Linked DNA regions of Homo sapiens: regions 2 and 3 are each linked to region 1. Evidence: fine-mapped QTL for protein levels in blood plasma. A gene starts in region 1. Each other region holds a variant in brackets. All regions are shown on one strand. Distances are between the middles of the regions.

Region 1 (2,756 bases):
TCTGTAGCCTGAGCATTTCAGGGTGGAATGTCACCAGACATCTGCTTTGGGGCACCATGGCCTGCGATTCTGGATCCACCCTGATTTAGGGTTTCACATCCTTTTACACCTGCACACGTGGCCTTGCCCTCAGGGTACAGGGGCCTAATTTGCTGTGGCCAGCTCCCCACCAGTACAGGTAGGCAGGGACTGAGTTGAATTAAGTTTGAGTTGTGAAATTAAAAAAAAAAATGGCCAGGAGTGGTGGCTTACGCCTGTAGTTCCAGCACTTTGGGAGGTCGAGGTGGGAGAGTCACTTGAGCCCAGGTGTTTGAGACCAGCCTGGGAACATAGGGAGACTCCGTCTCTACAAAATAACTTAAAAAATTAGCCGTGCATAGTGGCAAGCGCCTGTAATCCCGGCTTCTTAGGAGGCTGAAGCAGGAGGATTGCTTAAGCCTAGAATTTCGAAGCTGCAGTGAGCCAAAGTGAGCCAAGATTGCACCAGGACACCCCAGCCTGGGCGACAGAGCAAGACACTGTCTCAAAAAACAAAAACAAACAAACAAACAAAAACCAAAAAAAGTCTTGTTGCTTGTATCTGGGATTGCTTGGAGCAATTAACATCTGCTTCACATGTCAAGTGCCTGCACAAACTAGGCCCTCAATAAGATGGGCTGCAGTAATGTAACAGTAACTAGCTGTGGTGGGGGCTTTCCTTTCCTGTCCCAAGGTGGGGGTGAAGGTATAGGATAGTGGCCGGGTGCAGCGGCTCACCTCTGTAATCCCAGAACTTTGGGAGGCCGAGGCAGGCAGATTACTTGGGGTCAGGAGTTCAAGACCAACCTGGACAACATGGTGAAACCCCGTCTCTACCAAAAATACAAAAATTAGCCGGATGTGGTGGTGCATGCCTGTAATCCCAGCTACTCGAGAGGCTGAGGCAAGATGATCACTTGAACTCGGGAGGTGGAGGTTGCCGTGAGCTGAGATTGTGCCACCGCACTCCAGCCTGGACGACAGAGTGAGACTCCATCTCAAAAGCAAAAACAAAACAAAAAGAAAAAAACCAACAACAAGAAGCCAAAAACCAAAAAACGTACAGGACAGTGAGAGGGGAAAGAGAAAACCTGAGGAGTGTCCTGGACATTGGGGCCTTATGTCCCCCACAACACGGGACTGCCTCTTGGGGGTTCTTAAGAGTACTCAGTGGTACAGGGAGGCTCCTGAATGGCTTGGAGAATAACTGCCTTGGTCTGGGCATCGTGTAGTGCATCCCCACCCCAGGCTGGGCGCGCCTCCCTCTCAGGTGTCAGGGAGGAGAGCTGTGTGCAGGAAGCCCCCTTCCACCTCCCCCAGCCTCCCTAAGGGGCTCAGAGAGAGTGGGGTGTGGATTTGGCTGGTGAATGGGAGTCCCCCACTCCATTTCTCACTTTGCCTGGGGAGGCTCCAGCGTTGCAGCGGTCCCACTTCTGCTTGCTGGAGTCCCTAAGTCCCTGGCCTTGCCGAGGGCCTTCCCCTATGGAGGTCTTTCCCGTTTTGGCATTGCGCAAGGCCTGCAGCTGCCTCCCTGACCAGCCTCTGGGTTGGACAGTAGAGCTGAGGCTTTGGGAAAGAGGAAGCAGCCCCTGATACGGGATCCTTCTCTCTTGAGCCGGCAGAGCCCTGGGGAGCCAGCTGCACCAGGAGCTCTTGGCCGTCCTTCCTGTTCTCCTCTCCGCAGGTCCAGCACCGCCGCAGCCACTTCCTTCTGTGGAGCAGGTACCCCTGTCCCTGGTCCCTGGGCCCAGAGGGTGAGTGGAGCATTAGGAGCGGGGCTGGGCTGAAACTGGCTGAGCGGGATAGGGGCAGGGGTCGGGGGGGGGCTCCATCTGGGTGCGAGTGGTGGACCCCAAACCAACCCAAGTCCAAGACACTAATCAAAGATGGACTCAACTGAAACCCTTCCACCACCCCCAAATCCTTCCAACCTGCATCCCAATCCCAGTCCCGACCATCACCCTGCTCTGACCCTACCTCAGCCCCAGCCCCAGCCCCTATTCCAACCTTATCTCACCCTCACCTCACTTGCACCCCAACCCTAACCATTTACTCATCTCATCTAATCCCAACCATCCATCATCCCAACCCTAACCACAACTCCGACTCTATCATCCTCATCTCAACCCAGCCTCCACCGTATCTTAACCATCACCTGCACCCAACTCCAACCTTCACCCTTACCCCCACCCATCACTCAACCTCAATGTCCACCCCAATCCCAGCCTTAATTTGCTTCCAGAATTCCAACCTGATCATCACCCTGACCTCAGCCCCAGCCCAGCCCAACGATAATCTCTCCTTACTCTAACCCCAGCACAATTCCACTTCATCCATCACCACTTCGTCCGTCCACAGGAGGGCTTCTGGTGCTGTCCAGCACAGTTTGGAGAGTGAGCACTCCAGCCAGAAGCATTTAGAGCCAGATTAAGGAATGAAGTGTGAAATTTCTACTGCCCATGTCAAAGCCAATAAGCATTAGTTATGGATTCTATGGCTCTGAGAATTAAACATTTGGCCTGTGATTGGGGATTTCCACTATTTTGACCATAATCTGCTCCAGGAATTGCCCATCCGTACCCTGACTCCCTATCTGTGGGCCAGTAACCTCCAGCTGGCCATGTCACCCTGTGTTCTTCCTTCTCTAGCCCAATGGGGAAGTTGGGGAGAAGCCTTGGTGTCAGGAAACAGAAACTGAATCCTACACCCGGGCCTAGCTGTCCATAGGGAAACTGCCT
Region 2 (2,756 bases), 10 kb before region 1:
GCTATAAACATTCTTGCGCAGGGTTTTGTATGGATATAAGGTTTCTCTCTCTCTTTTCTTTTCCTTTTTTATTTCTTTCCTTTCTTTCTTTCTTCCTTCCTTCCTCCCTTCCTTCCCTCCCTTCCTTCCCTTCCTTCCTTCTTTTCTTTTCGTTTCTTTTCTCCTTCCTTCCTTCCTTCCTCTCTCTCTCTCTCTCTCTCTCTTTCTTTCTCTTACTCTGTTGCCCACGCTGGAGTGCAGAGGCATAATCGTGGCTCACTGCAACCTCAAACTCCTGGGGCTCAAGTGATCCTCAGCCTCAGCCTCCCCAGTAGCTGACACTACAAGTGTGTGCCACCACATGTGACTAATTAAAAAAATTTTTTTTTGTAGAGACAGAGTATCACTGTGTTGCCAGGACTGGTCTGGAACTCCTGGCCTTGGCTGAGCACAGTAGCTCACACCTGTAATCCCAGCACTTTGGGAGACCGAGGCAGGCAGGTCACTTGAGGTCAGGAGTTCAAGACCAGTCTAGCTGACATGGTGAAACCCTGTCTCTACTAAAAATATAAAAATTAGCTGGGCATGGTGGCGTGCACCTGTAATCCCAGCAGCTACTCAGAGGCCGAGACAGGAGAATCGCTTGAAGCCGGGAGGCAGAGATTGCAGTGAGATGAGATCACTCCACTGCACTCCAGCCTGGGTGACAGAGCGAAACTCTGTCTCAAAAGAAAATAAATAAATAAATAAATAAAAAGAAAGAACTCCTGGCCTCAAGCAATCCTTCCTCTTTGGCCTCCCAAAGTGATGGGATTACAGGTGTGAGCCACTGTGCTCGGCCCTGGATATAAGTTTTCACCTCAATTGGGTAACTATCTAGGAGTGTAATTGTTAGATTGTATGGTAAGACTATGTTTAGTTTTGTAAGAAACTGCCAAACTGTCTTAAAAATGGCCATACCATTTTACATTTCCACCAGCAACGAATGAGAGTCCTGTCACTCCACATCCTCACCAGCATTTGGTGTTTTTAGCATTCTGGATTTTGACCATTTTAATAGGGGTTTAGTGGTACCTTGTTGCTTCAATTTGTAATTCCTTAATGACATCAGGTTAAGCATATTTTCATATGCTTATCTTCCATCTGTATATCTTCTTTGATGAGGTGTCTGTTCACATCTTTTGCCCATTTTTTTTTTTTGAGACGGAGTCTCACTGTGTTGCCCAGGCTGGAGTGCAGTGGCGCGAT[C/T]TTAGCTCATTGCAACCTCCCTGGTTCAAGCTATTTTCCTGCCGCAGACACCCAAGTAGCTGGGACCACAGATGCACGTCACCACGGTCGGCTAATTTTTGTATTTTCAGTAGAGACGGTTTCACTATGTTGGCCAGGCTAGTTGAGAACTCCTGACCTAAGGTGATCTGCCCTGCTCGGCCTCCCAAAGTGCTGGCATTACAGATGTGAGCCACCGCCACCATGCCTGGCCCGTTTGTCCATTTTTTAATGGGGTTGTTTGATTTCTTAGTGTTGGGTTTTAAGAGTTCTTTGTGTATTTTGGGTCATCAGATATTTGTTTTGCAAATATATTCTCCCAATCTGTGGCTTGTTTTCTTATTCTTTTAACAATTGCTTTTTTGTTGTTGTTGTTGAGACAGAGTCCCACTCTTTCGCCCAGGCTGGAGTGCAGTGGTGCAATCTCGGCTCACTGCAACCTCTGACTCCCAGGTTCAAGCAATTCTCATCCCTCAGCCTCCCAAGCAGCTGGGATTACAGGTGCACACCACCACGCCCAGCTGATTTTTGTATTTTTAGTAGAGACGGTATTTCACCATGTTGGCCAGGCTGGTCTCGAACTCCTGACCTCAAGTCATCTGCCTGCCTTGGCCTCCCAAAGTGTTGGGATTACAGGTATGAGCCACTGCACCAGGCCAACAAATACTTATTTATTTATTTATTTATTTATTTATTCTCCATGTATACGACCGTTCCACATCTCGTGAATTTAGTTGCCCAATTCCAGCTACCAGCAGATTTCAAATATAGCTAACCCTTGAACAACATGGGGGTTGGGGGCACTAATCCTCCTCATCATCAAAAATCTGTGTATAACTTTTGACTCAAATACTTAATTACTAATAGCCTTCTGTTGACTGGAAGCCCTACTAATAATATAAACAGCCAATTAACATATATATTTATGCATTCCTGACCTACCTAACTCTGTTTCAGTTTTTTTTTTTTTGATATTTCTAGCTATGTGGTTTGTGAGTTTTTTCAAATTGTCACATCTCTCCAAAATTTTTTTCAATATGTTTATTTTTTTAAAAATCTGTGTATAAGCAGACTAGCACAGTTCAAACCCATGTTGTTTAAGGGTCAGCTGTAGTGTCTCTTAGTCCCAATTCTAATATTTTTAGAAGAGACAATTATTGACCAGTTTGGTGAAGTGGAGAATCAATGATGGCTGAATGAGGTGGTAGCATTAAGGTAGCTGGAAGGGAATCTGGGTGATATAAATTTAGTTTTCTAGCCTCTGCAGTACAGGAAGACGAACTGGAAGGAGGCAGGAATGATTGCTCAACCCTCCATATAAACACAGCAGTTGATGCCTGGTGGATGGTTGGGGGCTGTGGATATGACGTAGTACATGTAGGTTAAAAAAAAAGTTCAACATATACAGAGAGATGAAACAAAATGCAAAATTTTCTACCCCGCAGTTCCACTCTTCCGCCCTCTTTTCATTTTTATATATTCTGGAGTTTTCTTCTTCTTCTTCTTTTTTT
Region 3 (2,756 bases), 20 kb after region 1:
GATAAAACTAAACAGGGAATTTCAGGAGAAAGTGCAGCAGGGGAGGGGAGGTCTGTGGTCTCCCCATTTGCCCCCAGCCAGGGTCAGGGAGGGGCTCAGGGCTTTCCAGGACTCTGTGGAACTCTACTTGGGACCACTCAGGAGCCAGTGGGCTATTCCCAAGCTTGACTTCTAAGCCACATTTATAGGTGGGCCACCCAAGGCTCCCAAAGGCCAAGGGGCTCCCCAGCAGTAGGAGTAGCTCACCCACATGGAGACAGGTGGCCTGCTGTACACAGCCTCAAGACCCTCACTGGTGTCCTGTGCCCTCCCTCTCCCCAGCTGTGAATGTGCAGGTGTGGCCCGGGGCTACCGTGCGGGAGGGGCAGCTGGTGAACCTGACCTGCCTTGTGTGGACCACTCACCCGGCCCAGCTCACCTACACATGGTACCAGGATGGGCAGCAGCGCCTGGATGCCCACTCCATCCCCCTGCCCAACGTCACAGTCAGGGATGCCACCTCCTACCGCTGCGGTGTGGGCCCCCCTGGTCGGGCACCCCGCCTCTCCAGACCTATCACCTTGGACGTCCTCTGTGAGTCTGGCTGGATGCAGGGTGGGACTCACAGGAATGACAGAAGCCCACAGGGATCACGGCATGGCCGGAACCCGACAGGTGTCCAGTGGGGAACTCGGTACCCAGTAGCTAGTGGAGCACTGGGCAAGGAGCATTAAGAGTAGGGGGCGCTGGGGTGAGTCCTGTCTGGGCAGAGGAGCAGTGCCTCAGACTGGGTGGTTGGGAGCCATAGGGGTGGGGAGCCAGGGCCCTCCTGAGTTTGAATGCCACCTGCAAACTGGCCTCCTGCAGGCTGCTGCCTGTGACTCCGTGTAAGCCTCTCATGCCCTGCAGACGCGCCCCGCAACCTGCGCCTGACCTACCTCCTGGAGAGCCATGGCGGGCAGCTGGCCCTGGTACTGTGCACTGTGGACAGCCGCCCGCCCGCCCAGCTGGCCCTCAGCCACGCCGGTCGCCTCTTGGCCTCCT[C/T]GACAGCAGCCTCTGTCCCCAACACCCTGCGCCTGGAGCTGCGAGGGCCACAGCCCAGGGATGAGGGTTTCTACAGCTGCTCTGCCCGCAGCCCTCTGGGCCAGGCCAACACGTCCCTGGAGCTGCGGCTGGAGGGTAAGGCAGGGCCTAGGCCAAGCCCACTGGGATGGAAGCCCACTGTGGTGTCCGGCTGGGCCCGGCTGATCCTGGCCTCCTTGGCACAGGTGTGCGGGTGATCCTGGCTCCGGAGGCTGCCGTGCCTGAAGGTGCCCCCATCACAGTGACCTGTGCGGACCCTGCTGCCCACGCACCCACACTCTATACTTGGTACCACAACGGTCGTTGGCTGCAGGAGGGTCCAGCTGCCTCACTCTCATTCCTGGTGGCCACGCGGGCTCATGCAGGCGCCTACTCTTGCCAGGCCCAGGATGCCCAGGGCACCCGCAGCTCCCGTCCTGCTGCCCTGCAAGTCCTCTGTGAGCAGAGGGTCCTTGGCCAGGGCTGCCCAGGAGGAGGGTGGTGGAGGGTGCTTCTGGGCTCTGGTGGGAGTGGGCAAAGGACTGCAGTGGGCCCAGGAATGGGCAGTTGGGGAAAGAGGACATAGGTGCTAGAGAAAGAGACAGTCCTATAAGCCCTGCCTGGAGCACTCTGCCCACAGGACTCCTGGGAAGGTGTCACTTCTAGGAAGTGGCCATTGGTCCAGAGGCCTCAGCCTGACCAACCCCAGGCAGCTAGGCAATGAGCAGTACAGGGTGCCTAAGCAAGGTCCCCATCTGTGCCCTGCCTGCCCACAGATGCCCCTCAGGACGCTGTCCTGTCCTCCTTCCGGGACTCCAGGGCCAGATCCATGGCTGTGATACAGTGCACTGTGGACAGTGAGCCACCTGCTGAGCTGGCCCTATCTCATGATGGCAAGGTGCTGGCCACGAGCAGCGGGGTCCACAGCTTGGCATCAGGGACAGGCCATGTCCAGGTGGCCCGAAACGCCCTACGGCTGCAGGTGCAAGATGTGCCTGCAGGTGATGACACCTATGTTTGCACAGCCCAAAACTTGCTGGGCTCAATCAGCACCATCGGGCGGTTGCAGGTAGAAGGTGAGTGGAAGAGAGGGGAGGAGGAGGGGCTCTGATGCTCTCAGGTCCAAGTCCACGAGAGGGGCTGGAGCTCCCACTAGAGCGGGCTGTCTGGTCTGAGAAAGCTCTGCCTTGAGAAGCCTAATCTGGTGGAGGGGGCACAGCTCCCACTGGAGGGGGCATGGTTCCACCTTGGAAAGCCCTATACCAAGTCAGACTGAGACCTTCCCACAATGTGCAGAGGCCCCTCAGAGGTCCCACCCAGAGGCTCCAGCCCCCAAGGCCTACAGATCCCCAATCATCTCTCTATCCTCCGCCCGCAGGTGCACGCGTGGTGGCAGAGCCTGGCCTGGACGTGCCTGAGGGCGCTGCCCTGAACCTCAGCTGCCGCCTCCTGGGTGGCCCTGGGCCTGTGGGCAACTCCACCTTTGCATGGTTCTGGAATGACCGGCGGCTGCACGCGGAGCCTGTGCCCACTCTCGCCTTCACCCACGTGGCTCGTGCTCAAGCTGGGATGTACCACTGCCTGGCTGAGCTCCCCACTGGGGCTGCTGCCTCTGCTCCAGTCATGCTCCGTGTGCTCTGTGAGTGTGAACCCCCTCCTCCGCCTTAGTCTCCCCACATCTCACACGCCCACCTCAGTTCTTCCTCCTCTTCTGT

Alleles and levels. Positions count from the first base shown, and alleles are read on the strand shown. Strength reflects both the effect of a copy and how common the allele is.
For the plasma level of the protein whose gene starts at base 1,610 in region 1, allele C in region 2 goes with a lower level than allele T (weak association).
As copies of C replace T in region 3, the plasma level of the protein whose gene starts at base 1,610 in region 1 goes up (moderate association).

Evidence for each region. PIP is the chance, under the fine-mapping model, that this variant and not a neighbour inherited with it causes the effect. The UK Biobank Pharma Proteomics Project read protein levels with antibody pairs (Olink). The fine-mapping took linkage between variants from a reference panel, not from the people measured, so its PIPs are less certain.
Region 2: its variant is fine-mapped to the plasma level of the SIGLEC1 protein (UK Biobank, PIP above 0.99).
Region 3: its variant is fine-mapped to the plasma level of the SIGLEC1 protein (UK Biobank, PIP above 0.99). The variant lies in the coding sequence of SIGLEC1. If it changes the protein, the assay may bind it differently, which can mimic a change of level.

The regions. Positions count from the first base shown.
Region 1 is chr20:3,711,454-3,714,209 of GRCh38, reverse strand. It overlaps SIGLEC1 (sialic acid binding Ig like lectin 1), which reads left to right and starts at 1,610. Exons shown (of 22, transcript NM_023068.4): 1 at 1,610-1,740.
Region 2 is chr20:3,721,912-3,724,667 of GRCh38, reverse strand. No RefSeq gene overlaps it. Among named protein-coding and RNA genes, the nearest start is that of HSPA12B, 9.4 kb to the left of the region's middle. The variant C/T (reference allele first, on the strand shown) is at 1,228.
Region 3 is chr20:3,691,264-3,694,019 of GRCh38, reverse strand. It overlaps SIGLEC1 (sialic acid binding Ig like lectin 1), which reads left to right. Exons shown (of 22, transcript NM_023068.4): 14 at 322-573; 15 at 889-1,158; 16 at 1,248-1,499; 17 at 1,818-2,117; 18 at 2,420-2,680. Among named protein-coding and RNA genes, the nearest start is that of ADAM33, 11 kb to the right of the region's middle. The variant C/T (reference allele first, on the strand shown) is at 1,024.